2 separate regions of the Homo sapiens genome follow, and region 1 is linked to region 2. The links come from fine-mapping of genetic effects on gene expression. A gene starts in region 2. The other region holds a variant in brackets. All regions are shown on one strand. Distances are between the middles of the regions.

Evidence for each region. PIP is the estimated chance that this variant, and not a neighbour inherited with it, causes the effect.
Region 1: its variant is fine-mapped to the expression of PCAT7 in pancreas (GTEx, PIP 0.93).

The regions. Positions count from the first base shown.
Region 1 is chr9:94,596,772-94,609,316 of GRCh38, reverse strand. FBP1 (fructose-bisphosphatase 1) reads left to right here. Exons shown (of 7, transcript NM_000507.4): 5 at 2,365-2,502; 6 at 3,741-3,860; 7 at 5,745-6,184. The coding sequence ends at 5,936. Among named protein-coding and RNA genes, the nearest start is that of FBP2, 9.2 kb to the right of the region's middle. RefSeq lists an enhancer at 771-1,272. The variant A/G (reference allele first, on the strand shown) is at 5,879.
Region 2 is chr9:94,548,023-94,560,567 of GRCh38, reverse strand. PCAT7 (prostate cancer associated transcript 7) reads right to left here and starts at 5,485. Exons shown (of 3, transcript NR_121567.3): 1 at 5,223-5,485; 2 at 1,416-1,599. FBP2 (fructose-bisphosphatase 2) reads left to right here. Exons shown (of 7, transcript NM_003837.4): 7 at 1,436-1,848. The coding sequence ends at 1,630. LOC124902218 (a long non-coding RNA gene) reads left to right here and starts at 5,679. Exons shown (of 2, transcript XR_007061674.1): 1 at 5,679-6,009; 2 at 7,214-10,031. RefSeq lists enhancers at 1,458-1,958, 5,284-5,946, 6,611-7,273, 11,901-12,070, 12,386-12,545.

The DNA.
Region 1 (12,545 bases), 49 kb before region 2:
TGGGTGTGCCAACTGAAGCAGTGGACGACATTGCTTCTTCAAAAATAGCTCCCACATTTATTCGTGTACATTTACACAAACCTTCAGTTAACTGGTGCAGTCTTTCTTTCTTTTTTTTTTTTTTTTCTGAGATGTAGTCTTGCCCTGTCTCCCAGGCTGGAGTGCAGTGGCGTGATCTCGGCTCACTGCAAGTTCTGCCTCCTGGGTTCGAGCGATTCTCCTGCCTCAGCTCCTGAGTAGCTGGGACTACAGGCGCCTGCCACCACACTTGTATTTTTAGTAGAGACGGGGTTTCGCCATGTTGGTCAGGCTGGTCGCGAACTCCTAACCTCAGGTGATCTGCCCGCCTCAGCCTCCCAAAGTGCTGGGATTACAGGCATGAGCCACCATGCCTGGCCAACTTTTTTAACTTTTAGAGATGTCCTCCTATGACATTAGTGAACTATGTGTAAAGTGCTTTTTGCTGGCAAACTGAACCCCAGGAACAGACAAGGAACAGGAACCTTCTGTGCGAGATAGGCTGCTGGAGGTGAGGCCGGGTCTGTGTGTGGCAGGAAGGCTAACTCAACACAGGCTGCCTTTGTCCCAGGCTGTCAGGGAAGTGGACTTTCACCTCCTTGGAAGCATGGGCACTTAACAAATAAACAAGGGTAGGGTAATAGCACTAGTTAAAGTCGCCAAATGTGGTGACCTGGGTAGGGGTGGGGTGGGGGAGTTAGTGGCAGAACCAGAGCAAAGTTCCACCTGAGCCCAGGATGGAATTTCGGGCACCACTGATGTTTGCTGACTGTGATTTGCCGGGCCCTGACTGCTTCCCATTCTTCTGGTGCCTTCTCTTGTTACCTTTGAGTTGGTGGAAGCAGAGAAAACATTCAATCCCTTCTTGTTTCCAGATTGCAGGGGAGCATCCCTGTAGGGAAGCTTCTGTGTGTTTGATAGTCTTTTGCCCTCCTCAGTCCTGAATGTTTGGAAGCGCAATGCAGGGCTGCTGGGATTTGATTCCAGCCCTTCTGTCTGCGGTGCCTGACGGGGCTGAGCCTCCCGCCAGGGAGGTGCTAAGTGCTTCCTCTTTGTTTGCGCTTGCTGCAAAGCCAGGCTGACGGTTTCTGCTGAAAACACTGCTACAGCTGTACTCGGGTTTCCAGCGGCTTCAACTTTCTGGGAGCTTTTATGTTTTGTCTCTGTACACAGACTTTCCTCCTTTGCACCATGGACAGTCTGGCTGGGCCCTGCGCTCTGCACCCAGCAACTGTTGTGAGATGGCTTTCTTTTCTATATAGTTTTTTGAAAGACATTTATTTATTTATTTTTCTACCAACGATAAAAGAATATTCCGGTATACTTGTGGTCAAAAATTTTGAAAATATTAAAAAAGGCATAAAAGTAAGAAAGAAGAATCACTTCCAGTGACACCTTTCAATGGCCACTGTGAATTCTCCCCTCCCTTTCTCCCTGTCTGTCTGGTTTCAACGTATTCCATATGGGTAGGAACCAATTTCTGCTGTGGAATAAATGGCTAGGTAGAGAGGTGTCGGTGGGCCTTTTTTCTTTTCAACTCTTGTGTCAACGTCAAGCCCCTCCTAAATGGGCAGAGCCTCGATCACCCTCTTGCCAAAAACACACAGGAACCCATAACAATCCTCAATCCGGAGCAATAGGACTTCTGCAACACTTTTCCCCCAAATTCAAATCTCCTTTGAAGAGCCTAAAGCTTAAAGGCATAAGCTTAACCCTGGGCTATGTGGGAAGAGGCAGTCTGAGAAAAACTTCACACGCCAGCGAGCAAAGGCCATCGGAAGTTACGTACGCCAGACTCAAAACTCAGGGTTCTACTTTGTTCTATAAGAACGCCCAGAAAGGAGAACTCCCATCAAGGTAGAAATGTAAAGCCGAGAACAGCGCTGAGCACTTGGGTGTAACTCAGGGACTGATCCTGCGGTGGCCCGTCTCTCCTGAGAGCCCACCTCCCGCCTGAACCAACCCTTTTTTCTGTTTGGTAAAGGCATACACATCTTATATTGCTTTGGACACACGGTTCTTACTCTCTTGCAGGCTTAGCAGTTGTTTCACAAGTCTGCTCTCCCTATTTTTGTGTGGTTTCTTTCTTGTTTGACTGAAATCATATGCAAACAAAGTCGAAAGTGTCTGTTATCACCCTGATGGCTTCTGCAGCATTGTCTTGCTTCCCCTCACCCCATTCACAGTTCCCAGAGAGCCTGGCAGGTGTCTCGGGGCCCCAAGATGAGTGGTGCCCGTGCGCCGCGACCCCAGCCCAGCGTAGCCCAGCCCATCGCTCGCCTCATCCAGGCCTGGGGGACCCAGTGCGCTCGTCATCTCTCCACCTTTCCTTCCTTGTCTAAAAAGGCCATCGGGGAGTTCATTTTGGTGGACAAGGATGTGAAGATAAAAAAGAAAGGTAAAATCTACAGCCTTAACGAGGGCTACGCCAGGGACTTTGACCCTGCCGTCACTGAGTACATCCAGAGGAAGAAGTTCCCCCCAGTAAGTGAGGGCCCGGGGAGGGTGGTGCAGGTTCTGGGCATCTGGCACCAGAGGCCGTTCTGGAGGCAGGGGCATCCCCCGGAGATGAAAGGGATCCTTGGGATCGAGGGCCTTGGGCCTCATGTGGGGCTCCTGAGCAGTGTGGAAATCTATTGGTTGATGACTTACCCTAAAGGTGAAAGGAAGCAGGGATGGAGTGGATTGGGCTTCCGTCTACACTGAGCCCACGATGAAGTTCTCACCTCAGTACTGGAGACTGGAATTCTCACCCTGAGACATCAAAAATCAGTCTCCATGTCAGCCTTTGCTACTTTCTCTTGGCAGAAGAAAATTAGGATAATAAAGTTAAACAAATGAATGAATTCATGGCAGTAAAACATCTTCCCTTCTGGGGTCCATGGTCCCAGATGGGATGAAATGTGGTTCCCCCACTCAAATGCCCGTCAAGTGGTGTCTGCCCCTTGCTAGGCCTGCCTGAGGTGCATCTATCAGTTATCTCGAGACCGAGAGTGCCCATCGTGACATCTCCCTAAAGAGGTTACAAGCTAGTGAATATGAAGAGAAGAAATGGCTGTGTGGAGCTTGCTCTATATGGAATATCTGATTTTGTCCTTTCTTTGTTTAAAAGCCATCGATGGCTGCTGTTTGCTAGAGATGAAGCTCAAATGTTTGCAGGACGTTCAAGGAGGCCTCAGATCTGCCCCAGGCTTTCTCTCCAGCTTACTCATCTCTCCTTTCACCTTATCCTGGATTCCCCTCCTGCCCCCAAGCTCCGCACACGCACACCCGAGTCCCACAGGCTCCTCCTCCAGGACCATATCCCTCTCCACATTGCTAAGCAGACACTTGTGCAGTTTCCTCTCCTGTAAATTACACACTGCCTCCCACCCCTGCCCGGTTCCTTAGCTTGGTAACAAACTTTCTCAGCCTTTAAGGTGTTACTAAATGGTACAGTTTCTGTAATGCCTGCCTCAGCCCCATAACCAGAATCAACCATACCCTCGTTGGGGCTTCTGTGGGCAATCTGACCTATTGTGAGATGATGAGAGGCTGTCTCCATTTTTCCATTTTCTATTTATTGGGAACAGGATTCTCATCACATTTTTTAGCACAGCCCCAAATACATACCTTGTAGGTGCTCGGTGAATGGATGTGGAATCAAAGAAACTTAGGAGACACCAAGAAAACTCTCTTTCTTATTTTCTGCAATCCTAATTCTTGCTGGTCTTAACTTGCAGGATAATTCAGCTCCTTATGGGGCCCGGTATGTGGGCTCCATGGTGGCTGATGTTCATCGCACTCTGGTCTACGGAGGGATATTTCTGTACCCCGCTAACAAGAAGAGCCCCAATGGAAAGGTAAGGGTGTCCCCTGGAGAGGGAGTGAGGAGCAGATTTCACTTGCAGCCCACGCGATTTAGTTTAGGAAGAAGAAAGGTTTTGCTAGCTATTACGCTCCATGCTAGGTTGCTACGTGTGTCTGTAGCATATTCTTTTGTGGATTAAAGGTAAAGCCAGACGATATCAACTAAAGATAAAAATAGTCTCTTGAGAGCCCTTCCAGTGCTATGGCAAAAGAGAATGAACGGTCAGGACGAGGACTGAAAGTCCTTAGGGCTTCCAGTGGATACAGGGCTTGGCTGGGGCAAAATGAATTCCATTCATAAAGTGAAATGAAACAACCCAGCCTCACTTCCAAGGCAGCGAATCAAATGTGTATCCTCAGTAGAAGTCTTCTTTGATTGCTTTCAAAAGGTGTAAAACAGAGGTAACTAGTGAGTCAACATCCACTACTTGGAAAACGATACCTTTTAGGGGAGGAAAGAATCTCTGGGGAAACCTAGAGCTTTCAGGTGAGCCGTCACCACCGACTCACTAGTCCAAGCCCATGGTGTTCCCAGCAGGCTGCAGGGTGGCTGTGCTCCCTCACGCTCGCTCAGAGCTGCCCTGCTTTCCTTCTGCCAGGGTGACAGTGTGCTTCCTTCCCAAGTATTGTGTCCTTCTTATGTTTTCCCAGTGGACAGATGGCTTTTTAGGCAGAGTCTTACTCGTCGCCCAGGCTGGAGTGCAGTGGCGCGATCTCAGCTCACTGCAGCCTCTGCCTCCTGGGTTCAAGTGATTCTCCTGCCTCAGCATTCTGAGTAGCTGGGATTACAGGTGCCCGCCACCACGCCCGACTAATTTTTATATTTTTAGTAGAGACGGGGTTTCACCTTGTTGACCAGGCTGGTCCTGAACTTCTGACCTCAAGTGATCCACCCGCCACAGCCTCCCAAAGTGCTGGGATTACAGGCATGAGCCACCACGCGTGGCTGCCTTTTTTTTTTTTAATGCAAGAGGAGAACAGGAACAACAGTTCCCTTAAACACAAAACCTATGTGTTTGGATGTATTTGGGTCTGTTTGCAGCATGTGGCATCCAGAATGAAGGCATTTCTATTTACTGAAACCATCATCCAGCTGTAGCTGCCTCGGGCATATCAACCTGTGTGGTTAGCCTGCTTTCCAGCACTTTTCTCTAAAGTCCCCCGAAATTGTTCCTGAACACAAATATTGAGGCTCCTTCTTTTTTTTTTTGGTTTTTCAAAACTAGCCATGACACCTATGTGGAAATAGACTCAGGAAACACCTGCAGAAAGCTGTCGCTCAGTAGGCAGACTGCATGAAAAGGCATACAATAAAAAAGTTAATATTTAAAGGTGAATGCCAAGACGTATAATACACTGAATTCCAACCCAAAAGCCTTCGGAGAATCGTAAAAGGAATGCACACAGAGTTGCAAACAATATCACACTGTTTGGAGGAGCCGGTCTGCTTTCCAGATGTCTGTAGCCAGACACCACCATGGATTTTTTTTATTGCTTTTAGAATAGGCGAAGCTCCATCCAACACACACAGAATCACTCATTAAGTCCAGTTTCCATGGTATAAAGAGAAGGCAATGATCGCTTCTGCCAAAATGTCATTCTGTCCAGTATGCAGGTGGTCTGTCTCACATTTGCATCAGGTAATCTATTGCTGGCACTGGCTTGATGAATGGTTGAATTTAACCAAATGGTTAACTGTTTTGTCTCAGATGCAACCTGGGGTGGGAGGAAACTTTTACAGCCTCACAGGAAGGAAAAATACAGTATTCGTTCCCTTGGAAACTCCCACCAGCTCTGCATGTTTTGCTGCAGAAAAGTCTCTTTTTTACGCAATACCTTCTGATACAAGGAGGCCGCTACCCGGTCTTGTTTTCCAGCTGAGACTGCTGTACGAATGCAACCCCATGGCCTACGTCATGGAGAAGGCTGGGGGAATGGCCACCACTGGGAAGGAGGCCGTGTTAGACGTCATTCCCACAGACATTCACCAGAGGGCGCCGGTGATCTTGGG[A/G]TCCCCCGACGACGTGCTCGAGTTCCTGAAGGTGTATGAGAAGCACTCTGCCCAGTGAGCACCTGCCCTGCCTGCATCCGGAGAATTGCCTCTACCTGGACCTTTTGTCTCACACAGCAGTACCCTGACCTGCTGTGCACCTTACATTCCTAGAGAGCAGAAATAAAAAGCATGACTATTTCCACCATCAAATGCTGTAGAATGCTTGGCACTCCCTAACCAAATGCTGTCTCCATAATGCCACTGGTGTTAAGATATATTTTGAGTGGATGGAGGAGAAATAAACTTATTCCTCCTTAAAAAAAAGTCTCCCTTGCTTTGTGTCAAATAATAATGATGATGACAATAATAACTGCTGATGCATATAACATTAGATAACTCATTTAATCTTCACAATAACCCAATGAATCAGATACTCTGAATAATCCATTTTATAGATGACAAAATGGACGAGGAGAGGTGAAGTAATTGGCTCAAGGCTTCCAGCCAATGAGTGGCAGAGTGGGGACCTGAATGCAGGCAGCCTGGCCACTGTGAGCCAGCATACGGCTTCTCCTTCATGTCGTCCCGTTCAGGCCTGGCCCATCATTCCCCAGCCTTGTTCAGGATTGCAGCTGAGGAACCATGCAGCCTGAACATGGCGACTCACGCCCTCCTAGAAATGGGGGAGCTAATGGCTTAGTGGTGGTACCTGCATGTGACCCTCTGGCCTCCCAAACATGGATGTAACCATCTGAATCCCAAGTGAAAGTTTACTGTTTACCCAGTGGTGATTTTTCTTTTTCTTTCTTTCTTTCTTTCTTTTTTTTTTTTTTTTTTTTTGACGCGGAGTCTTACTCTGTCTCCCAGGCTGGAGTGCAGTGGCGCAATCTCGGCTCACTGCAACCTCTGCCTCCTGGGTTCAAGCGATTCTCCTGCCTCAGCCTCCCGAGTAGCTGGGATAACAGGCACCCATCACCACACCCAGCTAATTTTTGTATTTTTAGTAGAGACGGGGTTTCACCATATTGGCCAGGCTGGTCTCAAACTCCTGACCTCATGATCTGCCTGCCTCAGCCTCCCAAAGTGCTGGGATTACAGGTGTGAGCCACTGCGCCCAGCCACCCAGTGGTGATTTTTCTATAAAAGCACGGCACTTAACTCACAAAGGCTAATAGTTCCTACAGTCTAGTTACCATAAGAAAAAGGATTCACTACAAGAACAGGGTTTAAGGAAATGCAATTTGTTGCAAGCAAGCAGGCTTCTCACTAAACTCTCTATAGAAACAGTTTCTCCCTCCGCTAACCCTGGTCTTACTGGACCAGAGTCCAAGATCGTGGCAAGCTCTGTCAGGCACTAAGTAACACCTGTGGCCCTCCTTGAGCTCTAGATATAAAATGGATCTATCCATATGATTCCACTTGGGAACTGAAAACATGTGTGTATGTGAATCCTGCTTCTTCCCCTCCAAACACTCCCCATTCATTTCACATTTTCCCAGCAGGAAATTGATCTTGAGCATTGGATCTGCTTCTGCCCACTGACCAGACAGACCCAAAGCCAATATTTCTCCACTCCAGCTGGGGCTGCCCTCTGGGAAAGTCCCCTGACGCACAAAGCACCTCTTGAGTTTTAAACTTCTTGTAACTCAGCTGGCATCTGGTTCTCAAAGCATGAAGGGAGAGAAATATGGTCTGGGAGCCTTTTCCATATATATATCAGGGTGCAGTGGCTCACACCTGTAATCCCAGCACTTTGGGAGGCCAAGGCGGGCGGGCGGATCACAAGGTCAGGAGATCAAGACCATCCTGGCTAACACAGTGAAACCCCGTCTCTACTAAAAATACAAAAAATAGTTGGGCGTGGTGGCGGGCGCCTGTAGTCCCAGCTACTCAGGAGGCTGAGGCAGGAGAATGGCATGAACCCGGGAGGCAGAGCTTGCAGTGAGCCGAGATCACACCACTGCACTGCAGCCTGGGCGACAGAGCGAGACTCGTCTCAAAAAAAAAAAAAAAAAAAGAAAAAAGAATGAGGGTCTTTGCAGATCTAATTAAAGTAAGGATTAAGATGAGATGAGCCTAGATTACCTACATTAGGATGGGTCCTCCTCTGAAGCCATGCATTTTTGTACAGGTTCATGACATGGCAGGAGCCTGGAGGCCTAAGCCACCGCCATGTCGATGTCAGCCTGGGACCAGAAGGAGAGACAAACCTTTGCTGTGCTAAGCCGTGGGGATTTCAGGTTTATTTGTTGCTGCACGATAACATACGCTATCCTGACTAAACTAGACCAAGCTTGGCAATATTTTTAACCTCTCTGAGTCTCCCTTTCTTCATTTGCAAAATGTTAATTGTAATATCTATTGTAGTCAAGGCCATTTTCATCGTAGGTAACAGAAACCCATTTATTCTGCTAAAGCAGAAAGGCAATTTGTTGGAAAGCTTCAGGGGACTCTCATGAAACCTAGCACCCACTGCTTTCCTAACCCCGAGGACACACCCTTAGTCCGTCCTGGCATTGTCAGCCAATCCACTGTGTCTCCATGTCTCACACCAAGTTCCCCGGAGAAAAAAACCTGACGTCTTAGCTTGTGTCCAGTTAGCTGCAGCCATAGACCCGGGTCATATAAGACAAACGTGGCCTTGGGTTTTCTTTTTATGGGCAGGGCACGCCTCTCTCTTAGATGGGGATCGTGGGCTGAGCAGATACCCTAAAGGGTCTGCCGTGCTGGAAGCAGAAATGCTGAGGTTTCATGAAAGAGCGTTTGTTGAGATCACTGGAGACGGGGCATGGAAGGCATTCTAACAGAGTTTTGCTAACAGAGAATATGCTCTCAGCTAGTACTGTAGAGTCACAGTCCAGATCCTAGACTTCAGGTGGGGGCCCCGCCCTATGAACTGCCCTAAGACTGCCTTACTGTTCAGAGACTCTGTTTGTCCTTACTACTTCCGCCCAGGCCTGTGAGGGCCTTTCACCAAGCACAGCAAGCCCATAAATAGCTCTGTGATCACCAATGCATCAGTGGCGCTGAAAAAAGCGTGAGCTGGACGCTGCCCCCCCCTTCCTCTGGGCCTTCCAGATGCCCCGTGTGTCCACGCTGTTGTGTGCCCTGAAAGAACTTTGGCATTTGCTGAAAGGTCACCAGCTGCAATTTCAGATCATGTAGGTAACTCGAACTTCCAACATTTAAATGTAGCTGAAAGGGGCATGACAGCTGCACAGGTGCCAGCCTGGGCTGGAGGGTGGCAGAAATAGCAGGCCCTCCCTTGGATCCCTTTACGGGGGGAGCTGACTTATACATGGCACTGGCCAATCCCCCTCCCTCCTGATCCCCAAATTATCCAGGCTTCTGCTCATCCTTGACACCCACAGTGCCGGACAACCGGCGCCTCTCCAGAGATCTGCTCATAACACTGGCTTGTTTGTTTCACTTCCAATCTGTTGTGAACAGATATGTTAATAAAACATAATAAGCCGAGCGCAGTGGCTCACGCCTATAATCCCAGCACTTTGGGAGGCCAAGACAGGCTTATCACCTGAGGTCAGGAGTTTGAGACCAGCCTGCCCAATATCATGAAACCCCATCTCTACTAAAAATACAAAAGGTAGCCAGGCATGGTGGTGCGTGCCTGTAGTCCCAGCTACTCGTGAGCTGAGATGGGAGAATCACTTGAACCTGGAAGATGGAGGTTGCAGTGAGCCGAGATCGTGCCACGGCACTCCAGTCTGGGCAACACAGCGAGACTCTGTCTCAAAAAACAAAACAAACAAAAAGCATAATAAAAATAATTACAGGAGTGGCTAATAAGCACCTGCTCAACATCACTAATCATTAGGAAGATGCAACTACTCTAAGCCACAGTGAGATACCACCTCACACCCATTGGGATGGTTACTGTAAAAACAAACAAACAGAAAATAACAAGTGCTGGCAATAAGGTGGAGACCCTGGGACTCTTGCTCACTGCTGGGGAGTGTGAAATGGTGCAGCCGCTGTGGAAAATGGTGCAGCAGTTCCTCCAGAAATTAGACAGACAATTACCATATGATCCTGCAGGTCCACCTCTGGGCACATCCCCGAGAGAATCAAAAGCAGGGCCTTGAACAGATGTTTGCACGCTGTGCTCATGGCAGCATTACTCACACTAGCCCAGAGGTGGAGGCAACCCAAGCGGCCATAGAGGATGAATGGGTGAACAGACTGTGGCGTGTCCATACCAGGGAATGCTGTTGAGCCTCAGAGAGGAGGGAACTCTGACCCATGCCACAGCATGCGGGGATGGTGAGGACATTGTGCTGAGTGAAATAAGCCAGTCGCAGCAGGACAGATACTGTATGGTCTATGAGGGACCCAGTGTAGCCAAATTCATAGAGACAGCAGAATGGCGGGTGCCAGGGACTAGGTGTTGGGAGGGGGAATGGGGAGTTCTTGTTTAATGGGTACAGAATTTCAGTTTGCAAAATTTGAAATTGGGATTATGACTATAATTGGGGTCTAGAACTGTTCTATCATGCAAACCCCCATTGCCCTGTCCCCTCCCCACACCCCTACCCCTGGCAGCCATGAGAGTTATCTGTCCCCACAGGTTTGCATTCTGGAGAGTCCCCTACAAATGGAATGAGACTGTAGATACTCGCTGGAGACCACTGCTGTCACTCAGCACAATGCCTCTGAGACTCGCCTAAGTGCCACACGTGACACTAGTGTTTGTGTTGTTAATAGTATTCCATTGTGGCCGGGCGCAGTGGCTCATGCCTTTAATCCCAGCACTTTGGGAGGCCGAGGCGGGCGGATCACGAGGTCAGGAGATTGAGACCATCCTGGCTAATACGGTGAAACCCCGTCTCTACTAAAAATACAAAAACAAAATTAGCCGGGCGTGGTGGCAGGTGCCTGTTGTCCCAGCTACTCAGGAGGCTGAGGCAGGAGAATGGCGTGAACCCGGGAGGCCGAGGTCATGCCACTGCACCCCAGCCTGGGCAACAGAGCGAGACTCCGCCTCAAAAAAAATAGTATTCCGTTGTATGGCTCTCCCAGTGTGTTTACCCATTCACTGTTAAGGAGATTTTGGGTGTTTGCAGTTTCTAGTTTAACTAGAACTGCTATAAACATCTGTGTGTGGGTTTTTGTGTGAATACACATTTTCAGCATTGTTTTGCGCCATCACAGGGGAAACCTTCTTTTTTTTTGTTTTGAGACAGAGTCTTGCTCTGTCGCCCAGGCTGGAGTGCAGTGGCACAATCTCAGCTCACTGCGAGCTCTGCCTCCTGGGTTCACGCCATTCTCCTGCCTCAGCCTCCCGAGTAGCTGGGACTACAGGTGCCCGCCACCATGCCCGGCTAATTTTTTTCTGTGTTTTTAGTAGAGATGCGTGTTAGCCAGGATGGTCTTGATCTCCTGACCTCGTGATCTGCCTGCTTCGGCCTCCCAAAGTGCTGGGATTACAGGTGTGAGCCACCGTGCCCAGCCGGAGACCTTCTTAATCAGATAACATTAGCTTCAAAATGAAACCTGAAAACTAATCAACCAGGCCTCCGTCTTCACCCTGCAGTCATTTACTGGACCAGAACTTGGAAGATCCAGCCACTCTATTTCTGTAGTGATGTCAAAGGAATCATCATTGGTTTCCCCATGTGAAAGGCAAAGCTTATTTGTTAATGGCAACATGACGTGTTAGGATCAAGGAAAGGTCCATTCCGCAGTTTTCACAATTCCCAGAGCTCTTGGGAAAGGAAGAGTTTTCCAAGTTTGATCCTCATGATATCAAAATTAAAATGTTCTTACCCAAAAAATGATAACTCCTGTTATTAGCTTATTATTATTATTAAACTGATACTGAGTGTCAGATGGGGTGAACAGATTAATACAAAGTGGCATCTCTATTTAGATGAGTCTTTCATTAAACAGGAACACACAGAGTAAAACACACTGGAATGGCCCTTTCTCCAGCTTCCAATAGGGAAGTTGGATTGATTATTATGTTGGCAGTGGAGCACCTTCCAGAAGAAACATGAGCTAGAAATGATACCCAAGTCTTTACCTTACCCTTAGCAACTGACAGAAGTGAAGCCATTGCAGAAGGCTCTCTTGCTAATAACTTTTTTTCCCCAGCATATTTCTCAATGTGACAGTATTGTTCTGAATGATGAAGGCAACCACTTTTCATTTGGATTCAGAAACACTTGGAAGCAGTGATAATATGTCTTTTCTTTTCTTCTTCTTCTTTTTTTTTTTTTTGAGATGGAGTCTCACTCTGTTGTCCAGGCTGGAGTGCAATGGTGCGATCTCGGCTCGCTGCAACCTTCGCCTCCCAGGTTCAAGCAATTCTCCTGCCTCAGCCTCCTAAGGAGCTAGGACTACAGGTGCACACCACCATGCCCAGCTAGTTTTTTGTATTTTTAGTAGAGATGGAGTTTCTCCACGTTAGCCAGTATGGTCTCGATCTCCTGACCTCGTGATCCGCCTGCCTTGGCCTCCCAAAGTGCTGGGATTACAGGTGTGAGTCACTGCACCTGGCCGAAAATGTGTGTTTTTAAAACTAAGTGAAGATAATACAGTTAGGGATCATGAAGTCTAATCCCATTTTTTTTTTTTTTTTGAGACAGACTCTCAATGTCACCCAGGCTGCAGTGCAGTGGTGCCATCTTGGCTCACGGCAACCTCTGCCTCCCAGGTTCAAGTGATC
Region 2 (12,545 bases):
GTAAGGTGATAATGGAGAATGAACTTTTGGGAAGTTACACAGGTTGCACTGATGGGGAGAAAGAAGAAGATGATACTGAGTCATGCACAGCAGCAGGGCCTCGGCCAGAACGACACCCTGAATCTAAGGTGATGGGGGTGTGTGTTGTGAGTCAGGCTGGGGGCGTCATGACATCATCACAGAAATAGACCTAAAAAGTCCATTCAATCCAACCCCATTCATTTCAATTCACTGCGTACTCACAGGACACAGGCAGCCTCCTGCCAGTTCTCATGTGCCTGCAGGAGGGTTAGAGAAGGCCTTCCTTCCTCTGAACAGCAGCCCTGGATCTTGTGCAGAGACTGGCAAGCAGGGCACAGGCTGATTTCAACCCAGTTTCTGCCCTCGGCTGGGACCCCTCGTGCAGGAAACAGTGGCCTTGCTTGGACACTTTCTTCGTTTTTGAGACAGGCTCTTGCTCTGTCACCTAGACTGGAGGGCAGTAGCATGATCACAGCTCACCGCAGCCTTGAACTCCGGGGCTCAGTTGATCCTCCCACTTCAGCTTCCTGAATAGCTGGGATCACAGGTGTGCGCTACCACACCTGGTTAATTTTTAAATTTTTTGTAGAGATGGGGTCTCACTATCTCAAATGGGGTCTCAAATGCCTGGACTCAAGCGATCCTTTTGCCTCGGCCTCCCAAAATCCTGGGATTACAGGCCGGAGCCAACACTTTCTCTGTGTCGGCACTACTGAGAATACAGATAGTACAGTGACCAGCTAGGATGGACAGCAGCCTAGAGAGGAAGCCAGGCATTAAAGAGGCCTCAGTGTGATGAGTGGTACCAGAGGGGAAGTACAGGATGCTATGGGAGTGCAAACGATGGGATTTCACTTAGTCTAAGGGTCAAAAGACAAGACCATTGAAACACCGGCAAACTAGTTAGACAAGTCAAAGCTTAAGATGTGGAGTTCCTCCACACAATCCCAGCCACTGTGGCTGTCCCCAGAGAGACAAGCCGGCATGGTCAAGGTGACCTTACTGTCCCATCCAAGCTTGACTCTTTACCAGCCTTGAGGTCTCACATATAAAGGCTTCCACCAAGGCCTGCAGCATCAGTTTGCTTCTTGTTGAACCAAGAAATAGATGCCTAGATCTCATATTTCCAAGTCAAGAGGCAGGTCTCTCATAAGCACAAGGATCACAAGATGGGTAGATACATGGCTCAGTCACCTGGCCAGAGGGGCCCCCAAGGCTTCTGGATGAGTGCCATCTGATGCATCTGGCCTGCTGTAGGCTCTAAAGCTCGGGCCCACTCTTGCAAGGTGCATGGTGCGCTCATGCTAGCCAGATGGAAGCACCGCAGTACAAACTCCTCCCCCAGCTTTAGGGGCATGGCTCGGGACATTTGGCCACTTGCAGAGTTTACTCACCTGCCTCTGTTCCTCCACAGCTCCGGCTCCTGTATGAATGCAATCCCGTGGCCTACATCATTGAGCAGGCAGGAGGCTTGGCGACCACGGGGACCCAGCCTGTACTGGACGTGAAGCCCGAGGCAATTCACCAGCGAGTCCCCCTCATTCTGGGGTCACCAGAGGATGTGCAGGAATATCTCACCTGTGTGCAGAAAAATCAGGCAGGCAGCTAGCGAGTTTGACCCCACATGCCCTCTTCTGTTTGTCTTGCACCTTGTCTAAGGACCCTAAATGAACGATAAACAGAGATGGTAGCTATGAGTATACAAAAGGTAAATCCACTTAATCACATACAGAAGAGCAACAACAAACTGCTTACGACAGGTTTGGAAGCCACAGGCGATTCTATGGTCAATGTGAAGGACTAGAAATAAAAACCCACATGTGGAAAGTGCGACTTTGGCTTGTCTTCTGTCAGAAACAGTGGCAAATATGGTTATAATTCCGTCTGTCAACCCACATAATTGGCGGCTGCATGCTTGTGGGCAAAGAGTACATAGATTAGTTAAGAATTTGTCAGCTGGGTGCGGTGGCTCATGCCTGTAATCCCAGCACTTTGGGAGGCCGAGGCCAGCGGATCACGGGGTCAGGAGATCGAGACCATCCTGGCTAACACGGTGAAACCCCATCTCTACTAAAAATACAAAAATTAGCCGGGCGTGGTGGCGGGCGCCTGTAGTCCCAGCTACTCGGGAGGCTGAGGCAGGAGAATGGCGTGAACCCGGGAGGCAGAGCTTGCAGTGAGCCGAGATCGCGCCATTGCACTCCAGCTTGGGTGACAGAGTGAGATTCCATCTAAAAAAATAAAAAATAAAAATTGTCTTGATTGGCTTGAAATTTGAACCTAGTGTCTTATCCTGTAGTGATTACCTCCCTCAAACACATGTAAATTTCCAACTTAATATCTTAGAAGAGTATTTGTGTCTTATTTTGGATAAACTTGAGTTAGAAATCTCATGGCAATTAAATTCTGAAATTTCTGATTGAGCCTATCTTAAGAGTCTATAATTTGGATGACCAATCACAGTTTGAATGGAAAATGGGGTCACTTATTGTTAAAGCCAGAAACAGAGTCAATATTTAGAAATTAACTACTTTTCTAAACCTCTTAACCTTGCATTTTCAGTTTTTGGGGAAATGTTTTAATCTATTCTAGGGACTAACTGGTGTACACTGGTTAAATGACTCGTCACTTGTCCAAATTATGTTAAGACTGGGGAGGGGTTGGCTTATGCATCTGAAATCTCATCTTGTTTTAGGAAGAATTGCTCTGAATATCTATGGACCTGGAGGCTAAGAAAGACATTCATGAAAGATTGACAAATCAAATCAAATCCAGAAGTATTTAAAGCAAAGGTGCATCAGGAGAAAGTCAGGCTTAACCTAGAAATTCAAGAATGATTCAACACGGAAAAATCTATTACAGTAATTCATTAGGTTAGGGGAAGGCAGTGTCGGGTGGGACCAGGCAAGGCCCTGGAGGAAGCAAGGCTCTCCTTTCCCACTTTAGCTTGGGCAGGGTGGGGCATACAGCCCACAGACACATTTCAACTTGAGTGTCATTCTGTACGCAACATCGTTCCTCAGTCTAGCATGGCTTGGCAACTTTAGCAGACACAGCAAAATCTTATTACACAACCAAAAAATTTTCACCTTCTCAAAAAGGAACAAAGATTTTCTTCTTTTCCCAAAATGAAAACTTCATAAAACATAGATGAAAGATATTAAAGCAGACACAAGTAAATGGAAAGATATCCCATGTCCATGCACTAGAAGAATGTTAAAATATCTATATCACCCAATGCGATCTACAGAATCAATGCAATCTGTGTTCAACTACAAGACATTCTTCATTTAAATAGAAAAAGAATCTTAAAATTAACATGGAAGTTCAAAATACCTCAGATAGACAAAAGAATCTGGAATAAAAAGAAAAGCTGGAGGCATCACACTACCTGATTTCAAAATATACTACAAATCTATGGTAAGCATGGTACTATCAAAACAGTATGGTACTATCAATAAAAGGGGCAGGGGAGAGACAGAGAGATGAACGAATGAGACAGACAGACATAGACAAGTGAAACAGAATAGAGAAATCAGAAATAAATTCACGCGTTTACGGTCAACTCATTTTTAACAAAGGCCCCAAGAACACACATTCGGGAAGGACAATCTCTTCAATAAACTGTACCAGGAAAACCCAACACCCACATGTACAAGAATACATCTAGGCCATTACCTTACCATATACAAAAATCTACTCAAAATAAAGATTTAAATGCAGGACCTGAAACTATGAAACTACCAGAGAAGAAAACATAGGATAAAATGCTTCATGAAATTGGTTAGGACAAGGAATTTTCAAATAGACATCAACAGCACAAGCAACAAAAGCAAAGATGTAATTACGTTAAACTTAAAGCCTTTTCCAAAGCAGAGGAAGCAATCAGTATAATGAAGACAGAACCCAGAGAATGGAAGAAAGTATTTGCAAACTATGCATCAGGCAAGAGGTTAATACACAAAACATCTAAAGAATTCAAACTACTCAAAAGTGAAAATACAAATAATCTTATTTTTAAAAATCTACCCAAAACCTTTGTCCCCCACCATTTCCCCACCTTCTTTTCCTGACCGCATTTGGCCCTCTCCCTCTCACCACCCTTTCTCTTCCTCCATCTACCCCAAACTTTTTCACCGTTTTCTCCCTACCGTCATTTCGCAAAGCCTTCTCTACTCTCCCGCTCACCACGCTTTTCCCCATCCATCTACCCAAACACTTTCTCCCACCGTATTTTTTTTCCCACCGTATTTTCCCCCTTCTCCCTGGCCACCCTCTTTTTCCCCCTCCCGCTGTCATCACGCCCTTTTGCTCCTTCATATAAGCAAAAACATTTTCCCCCGTCTTTTCCCAAAGCCTTTTCCCTACTGCTGCTCACCACCCTCTTTTCCCCCTTTATCTACCCAAAAACTGTTTTCCTCATCGTCTTTCCCCCGGCTCCTCCTTGCCACTCTCCTTCCCTTCTCCATCTACCCAAAAACATTTCCCCACCATCTTTTCTCAAAGCCTTTTCCCCACTCCTGCTCACCTCCCTCTTTTCCCCATCTACCCCCCAAAATTTCCCCATCTTTTCACAAAGTCTGCCCCTGCTTCCCACTCGTTCTCTTCTCTCCCCTATACTGCTTGCCACCCTCCTTTTTGCCTTCCATCTACCCCAAACTATTTTCCCGTCTTTTCCCCAAACTTCTTTCCCTGCTCCCTCTCGCCACCCTCTTTTCTCCTCCTCCTTGTCACCCTCTTTCCCTCCTCCATCTACCCAAACACTTTTTACCTACCATCTTTTCTCCACCATCTTTCTTTTCTGCCACTGTTTTTTCGCAAAACCTTGTCTTCCTCCCGCTGGTTACCCTCTTTTTCCTTCTCCCACTTGCTATCTTCTTTTGCTCCTCTACCCAAAAACTTCTCTCCCCACCATCTTTTCACAAAACCTTCTCTCCCTACTGCTCGCCCATTTTCCCCCCCTCACCACTCTTTCCTCTTCCCAATTGCCACCTTCTTTTCCCCCTTCATCCACCCATAAACTTTCTACCCACCGTCTTTCTGCAAAACCTTCCTTCCCTCCCTCTCTGCACCCTGTTTTTCCACCTCCATCTACCCAAAAACTTTTTTCCCCACCATCTTTTCCCCATCGTCTTTTTGCAACGCCTTCTCCTCCTCGCTATCCTTTTTTCCCTTTGGCACTAACCACACTCTTTACCCACCTCTATCTATCCCAAAACTATCTTCTTCTTCCTACCCCTCCAGCCGCGCTGCAATGTCCACCGCCACCACCAACCGCAGCGAGGCGAGCCGCGCCACGGTGCCGCGGCTCAAGCCTCCAGCATACGACCTGTGACTCCTTTTCCTGGTCTTCTAAGCCGGGCACTGAGCAGCTCAATAGAAACACACGGAAACCTAAAAAAACAAAAACAAAAAAAACAACAACAAAAAAAACGTAACTCTGCTTCAGCATTATTTATATCCTGAGGTTATGCGCATGCCGGTTCCTAGACTGCATGTTCTGATTGGATGAGAGCAAGTCTTAAGACAACCAATCACAGCATGAAAATAAAGTCCAATCAGAGTAGGCCTAGAGGTTTTTCTCTCATCCAATCAGAACATGTAGTCCAGGGTCTCCTAACCTCAGTATATAAAGCATGCTGAGGCAGCGGCGCGTCATTTCTGGCACTTATGTGTGGGTGTGGGGAGCTACTACGTACCCGGCTTAAAGAACTGGAAGGCTCCGTCACTTTTCGCCCCCTGGAGCCTGGAGCTTGGAGCCTGGAGCCTGGGGCACTCCCTCCCTGTTGGTGGTGGTGGTGACGGAGCGGTAGGAGGGAGGCTAGCAGCGAGAGCTTCTCCTGCCGGGCTGGAAGACAGAAAGAAGAGGCACCGCCGCGTGCTGGAGGCTGGAGCCGGAGCTTGCGCCTCCGCGGCTCGCCTCGCTGCGGTTGGTGGTGAAATCAGAGACCGCAGCTCGGCCACAGTGGTAGAAATGTGGTAGGGTAGGTGAGTTATCCAGGGCTGCACTGCCCTCTTCTGGGGGTAAGGGTTGGGTGTACTATAGGGGCTCACTGCCAAAGGCTACACTGCCTGTGGCATTGGACTGTTTGGGGGCACTCTCTGGGGTTGCATTGCTGGTGGTGGAATGGGGGGCTACACTGCCCGAGGTGGCAGGGGTGGTCGGGAGAGGCAGGTTGTGTACACTAACGTGTACTGCCAGTGGCGGTGGATGGCTTAGGGGCGTTGTCTTCTGCTGCACTGTCCGTGGCAGGGGCGGGTTGGGTGGAGTTATCTGGGGCTACAATGCTGGCAGTGGGGGGTGGTTTAAGGGCGTGGTCCGGTGCTGCACTGCCTGTGACTGGGGGTGCGCTATCAGGAGCTGCACTGCCCATGGCGGGGTGAGGGTGGGGCGGGTTTGGGGCGCTGTCTAGTGCAGCAATACCCGTGGCTGCGTCAGGTGGGCACTATCGGGTGCTAACACTGCCTGCGGCCGAGGAGTTGGGATGGTTTGGGGGGGTATTGGTTACATTGCCTGCAGCTGTTGGGTGTGCTATCCCAGGGTTACAGGGGGCAGGTTAGGGGTGCTATCGGGGGCTATACTGCCAGTGGGGTTGGTGGGCTGCAGAGGCAGCAGCGGCAGCGACAGCTGTGGCCTCCTTCCTCTTTCTGGTGGCCTCCATGGAAGGATGGAGTTCTTCTCTTCCCGGACTCCAGACTCTAGAGGGTGATCTCTTCGTGCTCATGCAATCTTGAGCACCGCAGGGCTCTCACACCCACTGTGGTTCCCTGGCCCGCGCCCTCACGCACGCTCTGTGTTGTGGAGACCATCTGGGACTACCGGGCAGGGAATAGAGGGCACCACGGGGGAGGGAGGGGGACAGGGCACTGTGGGTGGAGGCGTGAGGAATGGGAACCAGCACTTGGGTGGAGAGGGCTGGCTGGGTCTGAGTTTCTCCTACGCGGGCTCCCCGAAGAGCGCAGTGCCGATGGGCCCAGCAATTCCTGGCCAGCTGGACTTGGCCAGGAGCCGGTTTCAGTGAAGGCACTCACACCCAGCCCAGGCCCCAGTTCCTGGCCAGCTTTTGCCAGAAAGAGAGGCTGGACTTTGGAAGGTGGGTGTGAGTGCCTTTAATGAAATGGTCCCTGCCGCCCAGTGGCCAGCGTGACAAGGTGAAGCTCTAACACTTCCACTCCCTGCATCCTGTTCTAGGTTTCTCTGGCTTTGCCTGCGCAACTGCTCCCAGCCAGGCTGGAGGAGGAGGAGGAGTCACCTGTGGTATGCTGGAGCCTGTAGATGGCGTGGCTCTGCAGCTTGCCTCATGAGGTTGGTGGCAGCAACAGAGACTGCAGCTTGACCAGAGTGGTAGGAGGGCACCCGTGGGGGCCAAGTGATAGGAGCCTTGTAGGGTGGGCTGGTGCATTGAGGGCAACAGCGGTTGTACTGGCATCGGCGCTAGCGTTGGTAGCAGCGGCAAGTCTGGGGGCTGGGAAGGGGAGTAGGAGCGCTCACTTGCCCATCCTGTCCTGGGGTGGGGACGAACCTTAAGGTGCTATAATGCGGGCCTCAGTGGCAGTGGTGGAGGTGCATGTAGGGTAAGGAGGAGTCTTCCTCCTTGTCCTGCAATCTCTGGAGGGTGCCCTCCTCCTGCTGGCGCCTGAGCCAGGCATGAGTGGCAGCATTGTCTAATTCTTAACAAAATTCAGGGGGTGACTTTTTGTGTATCTTTTCGCTTGTTTTTTGTTGTGATACTCTTGGACTTAACTCAAATTTCATGAATCGAGGAAAGGATAAAAGGTATAATAGGCCTTCTAATTCACGCACCTGTTCTTTTTCCTTTCTTCCAGTCTGTATTTTCTTCTTCTTGTTCCTCTTCATTTTCTTTTGCTGCTGCTGCTTCTATTTGATGTTTCTATTCTTGTTTCTCCTCTTTTTGTTTTCTTTATGCCAAGCAATGACCTTAAACAACAAGCCCAAACTGAGTGAAAAATAAACTTGTCACTGTGATGTATTTTTAAAATAACTGGTCCCTTACTATGTTTTAGAGATGAGGAAACAAATAAGTCGTATAATTAGTTGAATAGCTATGATTTCATTATTGTGTTAACCCACTTAGGCCTAGTGTTCCATTATTGGAACGCTAAGCATGTGGGAGTTACTTATACTGCTCAAGGTCATTGACAAGGTCTGATTTTTCACTCATGCAAAAATTCAAAAAATTGCAACCTCTGGCATAAATGGGCTAATGAGTTGTAAGTAGTTATCCAAGGAACCAAAAAGTGAAGCATCACATAAGATATTGGTAGCAAAAGGCCATTTCATCTCTCTCAAATATTTGTCTGGAGCTATGTAAGAGTCACTGGGGTAATAAGTTCTAATTTATGAGATTATTAAGTGAACCATATTCCCTTCATTTTATTTCTCTGCAACCATTTTGAAGAGTATCATCATCTGCATGAGCAAACCTGGTTCATCACCACATTTTTGCAAGAGGCAAATGAAGGGGGGAGAATCATGTGTATAATTTTGCAAGGCAGAGATTCACTACCAAAAACAAGGCTTTATTAACTTTTGCCTTTAAGAACCTGCAGTGTTGAGCTCTCTTTTAATCGTAGTATTACTACCTTTGGTATGAACTCTTTTTTTTTTTAAACTGATTACTCTAGAAGTTTATGCATTTTCTTAGCTGCCTTAAAGACAATCTATATTGTATCATTTTTCAAGCCCACAGAAATGTGTAAGGCCTATAATTCTGACACTTTCAGTTATTTTTAAGGTTATGAGCATGTGAAATACTGTTGATATATGGAAGAATGTGTGTAAATACCACTAGATAGCTTATTTTGAAGAGATAGTATCTAAATTTTTGTCCAGAGTAGATTGGTTGCAGTTTCTTAAGTTTGTTTGTCAATACATTTCCTCAATGTTTTAAACCATATAGAAATTTGAATACGTTTAACCTCATATAGCCCTTTATTTATAGGTTTAATATTTCTAAAGACTAAGGACATCACAGCCTCCTTTAAGATTCAGTAATAATAAAATTTGAGATATGTAGGATTAGAATCCAACAAATTCAGAGGAAAATTGTTAAATTATATAGCTGTAGAGCAGGAATGAAACCCAGATTCTAAGCTCTAAGGGGGCCATGAGCTACCATACAGGTGCATCCGTGACTGGGCATAGAGTCGGCAAAATTACAGGATGGTTAAGAGAGTGAGCTGTGGAGCCTGACTCTATGTGAACATGAATTTTTAAACCGCATGGTGCCTCAGTTTATCCACCTTTACAGTAGGGACAGTAGTAAGTTCTTTTTTTGCTCAGTTGTCTGGATTATTTCCCTAATCTTTCTTGTTGCCACTCTTGATGCCCACATGAGAGAATCTAAGGTAATTTCTGATAGCCTGAGACTGCTGAAGGAAAAACAGAAGGTGCCACAAACCCATTTTAGGAGAAACCTCTGTTTTCCTCATGGAACCCCAAGAACTTTAAGCAGACAGGTCCCTCTCAAAATCTAAGGCTCTCCTGTTTTGCCTTGCATTATCTGACCTTTTTGGTTTGAGTGGGCATCAGAAATTAGTAGAGGGAAGAGATCTAAAGAAAGTTGTGGATATGAAGATGTATTTATGGTAAGAAATATTATGAAGGAAAGAAATGTTATGTGAGAGAGGATCTTGTATGGCAAATTCTTGTCCTAAAGTAGAATGACTAATCACAACAGAGGGAAATACAGGACAAGTCACAAAGTTAAATCATGTCCTAGATGGTCTGTGGAAGTTGTGTTAGGGTTCATAAAATGTGAAAGAAAAACTTACAACTGCTAGATCGTGTCCTGTCCAGAAGTGTTGTGTATGTGATGTATATATAAAGGAGCTCTAAGTACTCGACTTAACAGAAAATGAAAGCTCTTAAATATTTTGTCAGAAAAACAGAGGCTCTAATGCCTTTTATTTCACATGACTTCACTAATCTTTGGAAAATAAAGACGGTGTTAAAATCATTGGTAGAATAAAAATATCTTCAAAATCTATCCATTTTGTCTAATTTAAGTCAGAGGTTAAATTTTAGAAGTGCTTTAATGTCATAAATTGATTCTTTGACTTTGGAAAATTGTTGTGTTTACCTGGCTTGGAGCCGTGAAATTTCTAGGTAAGGCCTGGGAACAGGTGGAGTTAGCCATGTCTCCTAGATATGCTGAAAAGATTCAGACTTATCTACAGTTCTGTCTTGTATCCTAGACTCTGCACCTGTTGGTCATTAAAACGTCCTGCTGCTGCTAATCCCTGGACTCCATTTAAAACCCTTCCATCACATGAATACTATCCCCTGTACTACATTTTTCCACAATTAAATACTTAGAATCATTTTTGCCCACTTGAACCAACCATTAGTGATATATTTAAAAAATAATGTGTCTCAATATATTTAGCAAATGTAGGGAATGACATTTTTACTGTTGTCTTTTACATAGCATTTATGTAGCAATGCTATCAAGTATTTTTAGTCATTTAAATGTTATATAAGAGATGCTTTTGATTCCTTTGTTTCTATGTAAATAAATATAATTATGAGATATTCAATAAATAGTATCGATTACATGTTTAATTTATAGAATATATTTATAAAATTAGGATTATTTTTAAACAGTATATCATACTTGTTGGCTTTATGATAACTTAGAAGTAATATTCTGGATTAACTGTGACTCATGAGAGAGGGAGTTTGTGCAACTATAATCTTTACAAATTTTTTCTAGATTTTCAAGACTTACACTAGAACTGTGAGAACAAGGTAATAAATAAGCATATCTAATAATAGCATCTTTGGTCAACTCTTGGCTAGACCCAGTGATAGTGTAGGGATTAGCGTAATTTCTGCCACTAAAGTTAATGGATTTGTTTTGCGAGACCACAGTTTAAACATTGACATACAAAGTTTAAAAGTGTTAGATTAAAAATTTTTTAATGCCTTTGAAATTGTTTTATAGAAAAATAATGATCTGTCCTGGTTTACATTGATAGGTTTTTTTTTTTTAATAAGAAGCAGACCAAGAGAAAGGGAGAGTAGTGAAAAAGTCCAGGTTTTCAAGTTTGAAAAGTAACAATCAGTGTATTACAACAGATGGATTTGAGGTCAGGTTACAAATGCGGAAAACATTACATATAATCAACTAGCCAGAGTAATTATACAAGGCAAAAAAATGAAAGGCATCCAAATAGGAAAGGAAGAGGTAAGATTGTCTCTGTTTTCTGACAGTGTAATCTTAACATAGAGAAAATCTTGGACTCCACCAAAAAAAAAGTTAAAGCTTATAAACACATTCAATAAAGTTGAGAGTTACAAAATTTAACATAAAAATATAATTCTTGTTTCTATACACCAGTAACAAACTGCTACCTGAAAAATAATAAAGTAATTCCATTTATAATAGTATCAAAACAAATATATAAGTAAAAGACTAGGGGGTAATTTTTATGAAGGATGTGAAAGATGTGTATACTGAAAATTATAGCACATGGATGAAAGAAATTGAAAGTGACATAAACAGAAAAACATCCTATATTTATGAACTGAAAAAATTAATATTGTCAAAATTTCAATGCTACCCAAAGCAATCTACAGATTAAATGCAACCACTATCAAATTACAATGCCATTCCTCACAGAAATAGAAAAATTAGTCCTAAAATCTGTATGGAACCGCAAAAGATGCTGAAAAACCAAAGCAATCTTGAGCAAAAAGAACAAACCTGGAGGCATCAGACTACCTGATCTTTGATAAAGCAAACAAAACAAAGTGGGGAAAGGATACCCTATTCAACATATGGTCCTGGGATAATTGGCAAGCCACATGCAGAAAAATGAAACGGTTCTTCAAAAGGTTAAATATAGAATTACCACGTGACTCAGTAAATTCACTCCTATGTATACCTCAAAAAGAAATTAAAACAAGGTGCCTGCACAAAAAGTAGCATACAGGTATTTATAGCAACAAAAAGTAGGAAACAACAGAAATGTCCATCATTAATGAAATGTGGCCTGTCCATAAAATATTGACAATGAAAAAGAAAGATATTAATACATACTCTGAAAAGGATGAACATTGAAAACATGATAAGTGAAAGTAGTGAGTCACACGTAACTGTATATTATTATGATTCTACTTCCATGAAATGTCCAGAATAGGCAAATCCTTCCAGAATAGGCAAATTCTTAGGAAATAGATGGATGGTTGCCTAGTGCTGGGAGGGGTTTAAAGAAAGAGTGGGAAAAATTGCTAATGGGTGTAAGGTTTCTTTTAAGGAGCATAAAAATGTTCTAAAATTATGTCGTGATTGTTTATCCACCCAGTTAATAACACTAAAAAAATTGAATTTTATACTTTACATGAGTGAATTAAATAATACATAAATTATATCTCAATGAACCTGTGGAAAAAAGTTAAAAAATATGTGTATGCACACACAAAAAAATTCTTTATCTTATTTCCATAGGTTTTTGGGGAACAAGTGGTGTTTGATTATATGAGTAAGTTCTTTAGACGT